Linked DNA regions of Homo sapiens: regions 2 and 3 are each linked to region 1. The links come from fine-mapping of genetic effects on gene expression. A gene starts in region 1. Each other region holds a variant in brackets. All regions are shown on one strand. Distances are between the middles of the regions. Region 1 holds the start of TAGLN (transgelin). Region 2 overlaps PAFAH1B2 (platelet activating factor acetylhydrolase 1b catalytic subunit 2). Region 3 overlaps DSCAML1 (DS cell adhesion molecule like 1).

The links. PIP is the estimated chance that this variant, and not a neighbour inherited with it, causes the effect. A credible set is the group of variants that fine-mapping cannot tell apart.
Region 2: its variant is the best candidate, but not a certain one, in a credible set for the expression of TAGLN in whole blood (INTERVAL, PIP 0.66).
Region 3: its variant is the best candidate, but not a certain one, in a credible set for the expression of TAGLN in activated CD8 T cells (Schmiedel 2018, PIP 0.78).

Annotation. Positions count from the first base shown.
Region 1 is chr11:117,197,094-117,201,243 of GRCh38, reverse strand. TAGLN (transgelin) reads right to left here and starts at 1,874. Exons shown (of 5, transcript NM_003186.5): 1 at 1,812-1,874. It overlaps SIDT2 (SID1 transmembrane family member 2), which reads right to left. Exons shown (of 26, transcript NM_001040455.2): 26 at 3,802-4,150. It overlaps LOC100652768 (a long non-coding RNA gene), which reads left to right. Exons shown (of 8, transcript NR_045215.1): 2 at 1,332-1,393; 3 at 2,456-2,507; 4 at 2,808-2,925; 5 at 3,337-3,458; 6 at 3,840-4,014; 7 at 4,098-4,150. RefSeq lists a silencer at 2,957-3,251 and an enhancer at 2,654-3,317.
Region 2 is chr11:117,157,815-117,161,814 of GRCh38, reverse strand. It overlaps PAFAH1B2 (platelet activating factor acetylhydrolase 1b catalytic subunit 2), which reads right to left. Exons shown (of 6, transcript NM_002572.4): 3 at 1,792-1,881; 4 at 554-670. Among named protein-coding and RNA genes, the nearest start is that of PAFAH1B2, 16 kb to the right of the region's middle. The variant A/G (reference allele first, on the strand shown) is at 1,898.
Region 3 is chr11:117,648,466-117,652,765 of GRCh38, reverse strand. The region is part of intron 3 of DSCAML1 (DS cell adhesion molecule like 1); the gene reads left to right. Among named protein-coding and RNA genes, the nearest start is that of DSCAML1, 150 kb to the left of the region's middle. The variant T/C (reference allele first, on the strand shown) is at 1,878.

The DNA of each region.
Region 1 (4,150 bases):
TGAGGACCCAGTTCTCTGAGCACTGGGGATGAGGTGGGCTCCTGGCCCAGCCACCCCTCTCCCTGCCAGTGATGCCAGAGACCCCAAAGGCAGAGTGCTCTGTTCTGCTGTTCAGCTACAAACAGCCAATCCCTCCCTTCACCCTGTGTGTCCCACCCCCGCTCCCCAACCACCCAAGGACTCCTGCACAAAGAACTGTGGTCCAAACCCCCAAGTCAGCTGGGACCAGGTGATTTTGGTAGCCCTGCATCCTGGCTTCCATCCACCCCAGCCTCTGTCTCAGCCTTTGCACCACCATCCCAGACAGGCATCCACCTTCTGTCTCTGGCCCTGCTTCTACCCCCACTCCACCTGCCCTCATGTCTGCCTTCCCCTTCTGCACCCCTGCTGGGCTCCTGAGGAACAGGATGGAAGGAGAGTGTGTCCCCTACCCCCAGCTTCCAGTCTCAGGAGGGTCAGAACAGACAATACAGGTCAAAGCAGCAAGGCTAAGGGTGACAGGTACACAACGCTGCAGCCCCCAGATCTAGAGACAAGATTAGGATTTCGGTCAGAGGGGGATGAAGCACACACCATCCCCACTCCCACCCAGCACCACCATCCTTCCCCTTCCTCCTCCTGGGTCAGGGTCGAAAAGTGGAGAATCCCCAGAAATCCTTTAGAGTCCTCTGATGAAGCCTCCCGAGTCCTGCCTTCGAGCCAGTGGGGAGGGGGAGAGGAGGATGATTACAGGGCGGCCCCCCCAGGGGCATCTCAAGACACTCCCAGGACAGCATGGACAGGCATGGACCCTCCTGCCCTGTGGCTCCTGCCAGGACCCCTCCCCTGAGCTGCCCAGTGGGTGAAAGTGGGCAGTGGAGAAAGAAAGTCCAGGGTCAAACGGGAAGGTGGCACCCCCTACCAGCAGAAGCCCAGAAACACGAGCAGAGCCAGGGGCCCCTGCAGGGCTGCTGTGCCCCTTCTCTCTTCCCAAATAGGAGTGAGCACACCTGGACCTCTGAGAGGGCAGGAGGGTGGCTCCTCTCCACTCCACGGACAAACAGGAGTGGCCTGGCTACATAAATGTGTGCCATCCTCACTGCTACCTTTGGAATAGCAACTTCGAAAGGGAACCACCCTTTGGGAAAGACCAAGGGTCCCAGGCCTGCCCCGCCTATCACTCCAAAGCTCCTCCTTGGCAGTACCCGCCCCCCACCCCTCTGCTACAGTGGGGGTGACCTCCCACTGTCAGACAGTGGAAGGGGCTGCTTGTCAGAAGGACAGGCCTTCCGTCTCCACTCTTTGCCCCTGACTGGAATACAAGAGTTCTGTGGCCCTTCACATTGTCACAGGGCTATCGCTGCTGCTCAGGCCCTGGGGACCCGCCAGAGTGGGACACCGTGCTCCAACACAGGTGCGTTCACACACTCCTCACCTCCTTGGAAGTTCTCCTGGAGGGGCAACAGACAGTAGAGCCTTGGCCTAACCGGCCGGCGCCTGCACCCTTACACACACCTTGTGGATGTGGCTGGCTGAGATGGGGAGCCTCCCTCTCACCCCGGTGGTTTCCATCAATTCCTCTGCACTAGCCAAGTCATCCGGGGCATTTCAATGAGCCCGGGGCTGCCCAGTCTGAGAGAGATCCAGGACGCTAGTGATCCAGCCCACCCTGCCTGGAGCTTGGGCCCCCATGCTGACTGAGAGGGTGGGTTTCCCTAGCCAGGGAGCTGGAGCTGGCGCCTGGGACCTCAGGAGAGCCTGCCTGAAATGCACCCACTGCTCCTGTCCAGCTCCAGCCCAACTTCCCTCCAAGCCCCAGCCAATGCACTCACAAGGCTTCCTCAGGGCTCGCAGGAAGGAGTGAAGACTTGTGTCTGGGTTCGGACAGACAGGATGGGGCGCTGGCTGGGTGAGGGGTTTAAAGGGCTGCCGCCGTGGTGATGTCAGCCTCCCCCACTGGCTCGCTCCTCGGCCCCCTCCCTGCTAGAGGAAGCCGGCTCCGCTCCCCACCCCCGGCTCCCCCAGTGACTCCACACAGGCTCCATATTTGGGGAAAGACACCAAGTTGGAGCAGTCTACCGGGGCTGCCGAGACATTCTCTGCATGCTTTGGAGATGGAGCGGGCCGGGGCGGGGCACGCTGCCGGCGGGGAGCCGGCCCGGGAAAAGCCTTTTATGGACAGGACCCTGCCCGGACTTACGGCTGCTCCTACTTCACTGTTCTCTGGCCCCGAGTTTGAGAAGAGGGGGAGTTCAATAGAGTCTGGCTGGAGAGAGGGGCAAGGGGCTGGGGAGCCGGGAATCCCAGGGGTTTGTGGGGACAAACCAGCCACCCTCTCCTCCTGGGGCTTTTAGCTCTGATGGGACATGGGATCCAACCTTTCCTGAGGACCTACTCCACACCAGGCCCTTTGCAGTGCTCTCATTGAATACTCACAGCTACAGTGTGAGGGTGTAATTACATCCCCATTTTATAGATGAGGAAACTGAGGCCCCGAGTGCGTCTTCCTCAAGGCCACATGGTGAATGGTAAGTGGCAGATCCTGCACACCTCTGCCAACCCGCATGGGTGCAGGAGAGGTGGTCAGACCCACCCTTTCAATTGGACCACCCTGCTCAGGTTGAGAAGAGCTTTCAGTGCAGGTAGGTCTTGAGTTATATGCTTTAGTTGGGGCTGGGATTTGAGGGTTCGGCAGAAGCTGAGTCCAACTCCGGTCCCCATCCAGTGGGCAGTGTCAATAAGAGGGTCTATAAGGCCTGGCAGGGCCTGAGACACTAACGCAGGAGAAGGAGGCTCAGGAGGCTGGTATCATCCCTTCCTCCCTTTAGGAACAGTCCCTACCAGCCTGGAAAACAGACCAGCCTCTGTCACTCCAGAGATAACCCACTCTCATCTTGCTCGTACCTGGCTTCAGGGATCTTGGGGAGAGATAAGAGGTTAAAAAAGGTGAGACTAACAGTGGGATCCCTGGACTGACTGCTGTGGCACTCCCCTGCAAGGGCATCTGGTAGGGAAGACCTAACACTCTCCACTACACACACACTGCCACACCCGGCACCACCCCTAGCCAAACAAGGCCCTAGGAGGGGGCTGCCAGGCCTGGCAGAGGAGGGGCCCGCCTCCGCAGTTCTGCCCACTGCAACTGGACATGCTCCAGAGCCCAGGGGAGGCACAGCCATAGCACCTCCCAGTGGCGCCTGCAGGAAAAGCAGGAAGAGGAGTGGGCCCTGGCGAGGGGAAAGCCCACTCCTCCATCCCTGACCCTGCAGACCTCTGGTTGTGTTCTGAATTCAACAGATTCCTTGGCCCCCAAATCATGTCCTCCTTAGCCGACTGAAGTCTAAATGAATCTTTCAGGGACATATCAAAACTCCCTCCTCTTGGAGCCTGCCCAGCTTTCATCACCCTCCTGCCTCGGCCTGCACGCTGAGCGGATTATAAACGCCGCATCAGGGAGCACTGCTTGGGCCTGTGGCTTGGTGAGCTGGGGGCCGCTCAGGTCAGAGGTGAAGTGAGCCTCAGTCTGGTGGGCGGGGCCAGGTGGGCAGAGACTGCTGTTCCTGGGGAGGTAAGGAGGGATGTCTGCAGTGGGATGGCGTGGGAAAGGCTTTTCCAGGAACTGGCCTCTGTCCAGCACAGTGCCCCGGTAAATGTTTACTGAATTAATGCTGTTGCTGGAGGGACAGGAAAAACGGGAGAATCAAGGAATTGCAGTTCCCAGTAGGGCCATGGCTTGAAGAATGGGGAAATGGAAGACCTCCGCCTCTCCCCTCATCCTCAACAGCTCCACCCAGAGGGAGTGCAAACAAGGGCCCCAAGAACTGAGTCTGGTTGTTTATTGAATGCAAATTCATTCATAGAAAACGGAAATGCAACCATAGCATGGAGACGCTCTGAGAAAAGATCCAGACCCACCTCATCTCCCAGCCCTTCAAGCAGAGCTATAAAAACAAGTTTGGGAGAAAAACACATTCCCATCCCCAAAGCAGAGGCCCCGCCTGAGCTCCCCCATCCTCAGCATCTGGGGTGGACCAGGTGGGACGAAGGGGATCCAAGGACCAGGGTGGCCAGGGTGCCCAGAGCTGGGGCAATTCTTTGTAAACTCCAAGGTTTCATAGGTATGTGTGTGCATGACTAACACAGAACTTGCCTGAAGACTGGACGGAAACTT
Region 2 (4,000 bases), 39 kb after region 1:
TCCTTCAGCCAGGCGCGGTGGCTCATGCTTGTAATTCTCCAGCACTTTTGGGAGGCCGAAGCGGGTGGATCACAAGGTCATGAGTTCAAGACCAGCCTGGCCAAGATGGTGAAACCCCATCTCTACCAAAAATACAAAAATTAGCTGGGCACAGTGGCGGCGCCTGTAATCCCAGCTACTCGGGAGGCTGAGGCAGGAGAATCGCTTGAACCCAGGAGGCGGAGGTTGCAGTGAGCTGAGATCACACCACTGCACTCTAGCCTGGGTGACAAAGCAAGACTCCATCTCAAAAAAAAAAAAAACTCTTCCTTCAACTTAAGAAAGTAATTATAACAACTATAAATACAACCCAATAGGCAAACAATTCACTAGTTTCTTAATTATATATTTTGGCATATTCTCAAGCAATGACAGTATCATTTACCTTAAAGAGGCACGAAAAAAATAGTGAAATAGGTCTTTAAAGAAGCAATTTTTTTTTACAGTTTCAGACAATTTAACTATCCAAAACAGACTTAAGATTAATGACATTGACAAGTAACTTTCATTTCACCTTAGGCTTAATATTCTCCAGTTCTCCATTCTTTAGTCTCCACAAAACATGTCTTGTTGTATCTCCCCCAATTCCAAAATTCAGTGCATGAAGTGGGGAAAAAAGCTCTCGCCATATCTAAAAAAAGAAAAACTTGATTTAGTGTACCTAAAACTAGGGGAAAGTTTAATCTTTCGACTGCAATGTGTTGCAAGGCATTAATTTCCTTTTTCTGTATTCAAAGATAACACTGTAATGGTGTGACACTGTTTAAGGGCTTTTAAGATACCATTGTGTAACTCAGTTCTTAATGCAGCCTTAGGTCTCAGCTCAAGAAATGAGTCACAACTCAATCTGATGCCCCCTAAAAGGTATCAACATTAATAATTAAGCTGTCAACTCAACAAACCCTCCTTTCCACTTATTGAACTACAGAAACAGGGTGAAGTAGAAACAAGAGATGAAGAAATTTAGAGTGCTAGAGCTTAAAAAAAAAAAAAAAAGCTATCTTTTAAATTTCCCTTGGGGCTGGGCACAGTGGCCCATGCCTATAATCCCAGCACTCTGTGAGGCCAAGGCACGTGGATCATTTGAGGCCAAGAGTTCGAGACCAGCCTGGCCAACATAGTGAAACCCCGTCTCCACTAAAAATACAAAAATCAGTCAGGCATGGTGGCACATGCCTATAATCCCAACTACTCAGGGGCTGAGGTATGAGAATCTCTTGAGCCTGAGATTGTGCCACTGCACTCCAGCCTCGACGATGGAGCGGGACTGTCTCAAAAAAATAAATTAAAAAATAAAAAAACTAATAAATTTCCCATGGAAGAATGCCTAAACCCTAAAAGAAGATTGGCAATAGCTTACTACAAAAATATATGAAATAGGAAAATGGCAAAATATAAGTAAGAATCATGACTAGGATAAATGTTATTAGCAAATACAAATAGGAAATACTAAGATACAAATAATAACTTGACAATCTGAGTAGAGCAAATATAAACAAATATAACATCAAGCCTCTTGGAAACCAGAGTAGAAGAGGAAGTTTCATTATAAACAATGCTTCAGATCAGAACATGGCCAAGTTAAAAGAAAGAAAAGAAAATCCCTTTAGGTAGCTTTGATTCTCTTATAACCTCAATTAGGGCTTCTCTAAGAGTCACAAATAAGTAAGTTCAGCTCAGAATGAAAGTCTGTTAGTAATGAATGGATATACATGAGTAGCCAAGAACCACGCTCATCCCTTCCACCTTTACCTCATATTGCTGCATTAACTGCACCATGGAGTCTCCCACGAACAGTACATCAGGCTCTTTGTCTTTACAGTCCAAAACAAATCTGTTGTGCTGGTTTGAAGAAGAA[A/G]AAAAAAAATTATTAACTGGCACTTCTGGCTGGGTGTGGTGGCCCATGCTTGAACTCTCAACATTTTGGGAGGCCAGGACAGGAGAATAACTTGAGGTCAGGAGTTTGAGATCAGCCTGGGTAATATATCAAGATCCCATCTCTACAAAAACAACTTTTTTCTTTCTTTTTTTTTTTTTTTCTAAGACAGCGTCTGGCTCTCTCACCCAGGCTGGAGTACAGTGGCGTGATCTTGGCTCACTGCAACTTCTGCTTCAGGGGCTCAAGTCATCTTCCCACCTCAGTCACCTGAATAGCTGGGATTATAGGCTCATGCCACCATGCCTGGCTAATTTTTTCTATTTTTTTGTAGAGACGAGGTTTTACCATGTTGCCCAGGCTGGTCTTGAACTCCTGAGCTCAAGCAATCTGCCCACCTTAGCCTTCCAAAGTGCTGGGATTACAGGTGTGAGCCACACATCTAGCCAAAAAAAAATTTTTTTAATAAAAAAAGAAACTGATATTTCTTTCCCTGTGAGACTTCTTGGCCTAGAAAGAACAGCTGTTCAACCAGTTACTGTTGTTGAACATTTTTTTTAGTCTATCCCCAAAGCTTATTCCTCTCATTCTATAAATTACTGTTTGAACTTTCTTCTCACCCTTACCATACAGAGCATTCTAGTACTCTCAAGAAACCCAGAATTCTACTGAAACCAGAATAGAAAAATACATGTAACATGCTGTTTAGAAGTTTATCTTTTCCTCAAACTTTTATTAAGAAAATTGTAGATACACAGAAAGTTGACATATTACAATGAACACATATACATCTGCCTCTTGTATTCAACAACTAATAGTATTTTCCCATGTTTGCTTTGTTTCTATGTATGTGTGCATGTTTGCTGGACCACTTGTGAAGTAGAATGCAAACATTATGATTCTTCACCCTAATCAGCAAGCATCTCCTAAGAGTAAGAACATCCTCTTATAAAACCAAATGGTGCGGTGGCTCACGCCGGTAATCCCAGCACTTTGGGAGGCCAGGGTGGGCAGATCACCTGAGGTTGGGAGTTCGAGACCAGCCCAGCCAACATGGTGAAACCCCGCCTCTAATAATAATACAAAAATTAGCCAGGTGTGGTGGCGGGTGCCTGTAGTCCCAGCTACTCAGGAGGCTAAGGGAGGAGAATCGCCTGAACCTGGGAGACGGAGGTTGCAGTGAGCCGGGATCATGCCATTACACTCCAGCCTAGGCGACAAGAGCGAAACTCCATCTTAAAAAAAAAAAAAAAAAAAAAGCCCACAAACTATTATCATAACTAGGAAAAGAAACAATCCCATAACATTCAATTTTTCAAATGGCTCCAAGAGTTCAATAAAGTATTATATCATTTTCTCAACTATGATCCAATGAGGATCCATGTATTTTATTTGAATGCAGACTTTGAAAATATCTGTTAACTTCCAAATGTGAGACACCGGCAAACTAGGACTCAATCCTTTTCAGTCAAATCCAAGTTTATAAACAGTGGTAATCTCCGCCCAGAGTGCCTCTTTCTGTTATAAAGGCACAAGACACTCTCTAAAATAGATTTTGGCCAGGTGTGGTGGCTCATGTCCATAATCTTAGCACTTTAGGAGGCCAAGGTGTGAAGGATAGCTTGAGCCCAGGCATTCGAGACCAGCCTGGGCAACATCATGAGACCCCTTCACTATGAAGAAAAGAAAGAAAGAAAAAAGAAAACAAATTTTACCCATCAATGCTAAAGAACATAGTTTAAACTTTTTATTTTACTTTTTGGAGATGGAATCTCACTTTATCACTCAGGCTGGAGTGTAGTGGCGCGATCTTAGCTCACTGCAACCTCCACCTCCCGGGTTCAACCAATTTTTGTGCCTCAGCCTCCCGAGTAGCTGGGATTACAGGCGCCCACCACCATGCCCAGCTAATTTTTGTATTTTTAGTAGAGATGGGGTTTCACCATGTTGGTCAGGCTGGTCTCGAACTCCTGACCTCAGGTGATCCACCCGCCTCAGCCTCCAAAAGTGCTGGGATTACAGGCGTGAACTACCGTGCCAGACCAGTTTAAACTTTTATATTCATCCCTTAAACAAATTTATACA
Region 3 (4,300 bases), 450 kb before region 1:
CACAGCCCTTACCAATGCACGCACGGTTATCATCGTGACTGGGCACTTTATGACCAGTCCCAGCATTCCTTCTGCTCATCCAGTTGCTTCGGGGGCCCAGGCAAGAATCTTGAGGCATTTTGAAGCTAAGTGTCTCTAGGGTTTAGATTTCCATGGATCACCATCTCTCCTCTACCTCTTCTTCCCAGCCTGGGTAAGACTAGAGCTGTGGCTGCCTCAGGTGTGAGTATGTCACCTTTTAAATGGTGGTGTATTGGAGGTGGAGCAGGTCTTGCATCCATCTCTGCAGTCCCAGATGGGGAGGTGACTGGGAACGGTAAGTGACTTCCCCAATTCAAGGGCATGGCGTGGTGGGACAGGGGCTACGCCGCCCTCTAGTCTTGGAGGTCTGGGCAGTGTCATCTGCTCCATCTCCTGGTTCTTTCCCATGGGGATAATATGCATGGCAGCATCACATGCGTAGCCCAGGTGACCTCTCTCGTCATGGAGACTAAGAGCTGGGGACTAGAGCAGGCAACACGCTGGAGACTAATTCTACCAACGCCTTGTCTCCAGAAAAGAAAAGATATTGGGAGTCTGAGAAGCAATTTTGAAGTTGGGGCTTCCCCTACTAGAAGGCATCCAGGACAGCTGGATCTCGATAAGTCCAGTGTGGCCCAAGGGTTTGCTGTCAGCCTTGCGATCTCCGAACCCTGAGAAGGAAGATGGTGCAAGGAGGAGGCAAGGCCAAGAGCACCAGGCCTTGCTGGCTTAGAGGAAACAGTGGCTCAGAAGCCAGAGGTGAGCCTGGGCTGCCCTAGGAGGCTGGACCAATACCCGTAATCAGAGAGAATAGTTGACAGATGACCACTTGCAGAGTAGGCATTGTCATCCCCGCTGTTTCCCTGAACCTATTTCTGCAGAGGCTCGGGGAGACATCGGGGATGACATCTGTCTTGAAGGGCTGCAGTGACTATAAAACCAGATAATGTCAAGAAAGTACTTTGAAACTCTGAAGGACAACAAATTTTTAGGGATGCAATCATTCTTTTTTTTTTTTTTTTTTTTTTTTTTTGAGACAGAGTCTTGCTCTGTCGCCCAGGCTGGAGTACGCTGGCAAGATCTCGGCTCACTGCAAGCTCCACCTCCTGGGTTCACGCCATCCTCCTGCCTCAGCCTCCCGAGTAGCTGGGACTACAGGTGCCCGCCACCACGGCCGGCTAATTTTTTTTTTTTTGTATTTTTAGTAGAGACAGGATTTCACCGTGTTAGCCAGGATGGTCTCGATCTCCTGACCTCGTGATCTGCCCGCCTCGGCCTCCCAAAGTGCTGGGATTACAGGCGTGAGCCACCGCACCCGGCCTAGGGGTGCAATCATTCTTATATTTGCTGGAGATGTAGCCAGGGCTCAGGAGCTGAGCAGAGCCCATCAGTGCACTGTGGAGCACAGCCTGTTGGAGTCCTTGGGCTGGGGCCACTGGACAAAGTGCTGCCACTGCAGCCCCTGCCAGGGTGGCATTTCTGTGGCCTTATCATCTGTTTCTGTTTCTTGTCCCATCCCTGAGCTGAGGCTGGAGCTGCAGACCCTGGTCCAGTAGCCATGGACAGAGGCAGCAGCTGTTTCAGGCTGTAAGAGCAAAGCGCCCTGGATTGAGGCTTCGGTCAAAATGTGGGCCTTAGTCTGTGCCCACAAATCAGGCCATGTCCATGTCCCCCATGGTCACAGGCATGACCTCCAAGGTCCCACCCAGGGTTGCTTTCCAGGCTACAAAGGCACGGAAGACAAATTAGGCACACAGGAGACATCCCTGTCCTCTCCCTGGAGGTTGCCCTGGAAACTCTTACTACCTGTACTCTCCCAGGTTGATCAACTGGCAGAGGCCTGGGGCCTGTTTGGG[T/C]GATTCTGAACCAACTCAGGCCCAGGCACCACAGGGTTCCCTTTGGGCTCAGCACCAGATCTCACCACAGTGGAAAGCTGGGCAATTAGCTGCCGAGTCCTGAGCAGCCCTCAACCACCCCTGACCATCTGAATCATCCTAGCAAGCCACCCACTGGGAACCCCAATCCCCACCACACACACACACGCACACACACACACACACACACACACACACACACAGATAGACACACACACTTTAAACAGAATGACTCAGATGGACTCCAAGGGCAGCCTCAGATCACCAGCTCGGTACTGTGACCTTCCACCAAGTGTGTGTTCAGACTGGCAGAGGCTCTGACAGCCTCTTTGCACGAGGCTGCGTGTGATCTCTTCTGACTTTCTACCTAATTGTCCTGGAAAAGAGCTGGAGAGGACAGTTTCTCAGAGAACCGCAGCTGCATCTCTTCAGGGCATTCATTCATTCATTCATTCATTTCTTCAACTAACATCTGTGGAGTATCTTCTGAATCCCATAACTGGATCCTGGCAACATGCAGAAGAAACCCGGGCCCTATCCTCTTCAGCCTGAGGGCCTGCAAAGCCTTTGACACGAGGCAGTCCATACGTGAAGCATCTCTAGCTGAGGTCCTGCCAAACCTGGCAGCACCTCAGAATCATGTGGGGAGTGGGCAGACACAAATTCCTGGGCCGCACCCTGGAGATCCAGACTGAGAAGGCACAGGGCGGGGCCTGGGAACCCGTGTTTTTTGGAAGTTCACAGATAATGCCAGTGAGGAGCCGTATCTGGGGACCACAGCTCTAGTCCCTTGCCTGGTTCCTAAAAAGAGGAAACTGAAACCCAGTTAGTGGCCTAGCCTGTGCCAACCGCTGCTCAGTGCCCCAGAATGCCCTGCCAGCCAAAGGGAGGACAGGTTGAGCCAAGCAAGGGGTTCCAATGAGGAAGGGTCAAGGCAGCACATCAAGAGGCAACTCCTGGGGAGGCCATGGTTCCGATGAGCAGAGGAAGGAGGAAGCACTTGGCAGGCTGGGGCGGAGGCACGGAAGGAGCACAAATCTCCCTGTGAGAACTGCCTGGACCTGTTCAGGGAGAGGGAACCTACGGATAGGTCCAGAAAGGTAGGTTGAGAACAGGTTTAGGACCAAGGAATTCCTGCATTATTCAATAGCCATTGTGGAAATTTTCTCAACCCGTGCTATTTTAAGACAATAACTCTTACAATAAAGTGGGCCATTAGTTCACAGGGGTTTGGTAGGGACGAGCCCAGAGCAGGGAGATCAATGAAGAAGAGTGGTGGGGTCACAGTGGGGCCCAGAAGGAGAGGAGAGATGCAGAGCCAAGCCCTGGTGACCACGGGAAGCTGCCAGGGAGATGGGAGAGTCAAAGATATTAACATTTTGAACTTTGGCACCTGCAAGAACAGGCATATGGCTAGTGGAGACGGGGAACTTATCAGGGCTGGAGAGACCAATTTTAAGGGAAAGGCTTTCTCTTTGGGCCTGCAAAAATAGTGATAAGTTGGCGGGGCATGGTGGCTTATGCCAGCACTTTGGGAGGCCAAGGCGGGCAGATCACCTGAGGTCAGGAGTTCGAGACCAGCCTGGCCAATGTGGTGAAACCTCGTCTCTACTAAAAATACAAAAATTAGCCTGGTGTGGGGGTGCACGCCTGTAATCCTAGCTGCTGGGGTGGCTGAGGCAGGAGGCTTGCTTTAACCCTGGGAGGCGGAGGTTGCAGTGAGCCGAGATCATGCCATTGCACTCAAGCCTGGGTGACAAGAGCGAAATTCTGTCTAAAAATACACACACACACACACACACACACACACACACACACACACACACACATATATATGGAGAGAGAGAGAGCGAGAGGGAGAGAGAGATAAGTAAAGCATTCAGAACAATCCTGGCCAGAGTAGATGCTTAAGATTTAGTTGTTATTTGCTGTTCTACATTAGGCCTGAGCTGGTGGGAATGTCACATTCCTCATCTTTGGTCTGATTCTCTGTGGCAGGCACTTGCCTTCCCAGGAAGCACTAAGCATTTGGCTTTGCAGAGATTTTACCTCCTATCTCTGGAGAAGGCGCCGCCTTGGATTCTGGGCCACCTGGATTGCTAAAGCCTGGGGTTAGGTGCTGGAGAGGAGAATAAACATTTATGGAGCAGCTACCAGGAGGCAGAGTGTGCACCAGGTGTCTGGCTGTGTGTTCTTTCCAACTCTGCACAACCAAGGGGTGAGGTATTACCGCTGTTCCCATCTTGCAGAGGAAGTGAATTGCTCTGTGACCCATGATGAAAGGGCTGAGACAGCCACACACACAGGTCAGTCTGACCCCAAAGCCTGTGCTCTTCCCCTTATAGGGCCCACTGCTTCCACGTTCTAGAATCCTTTCTCCTTTTCTTTGATCACGTTTTATTTCT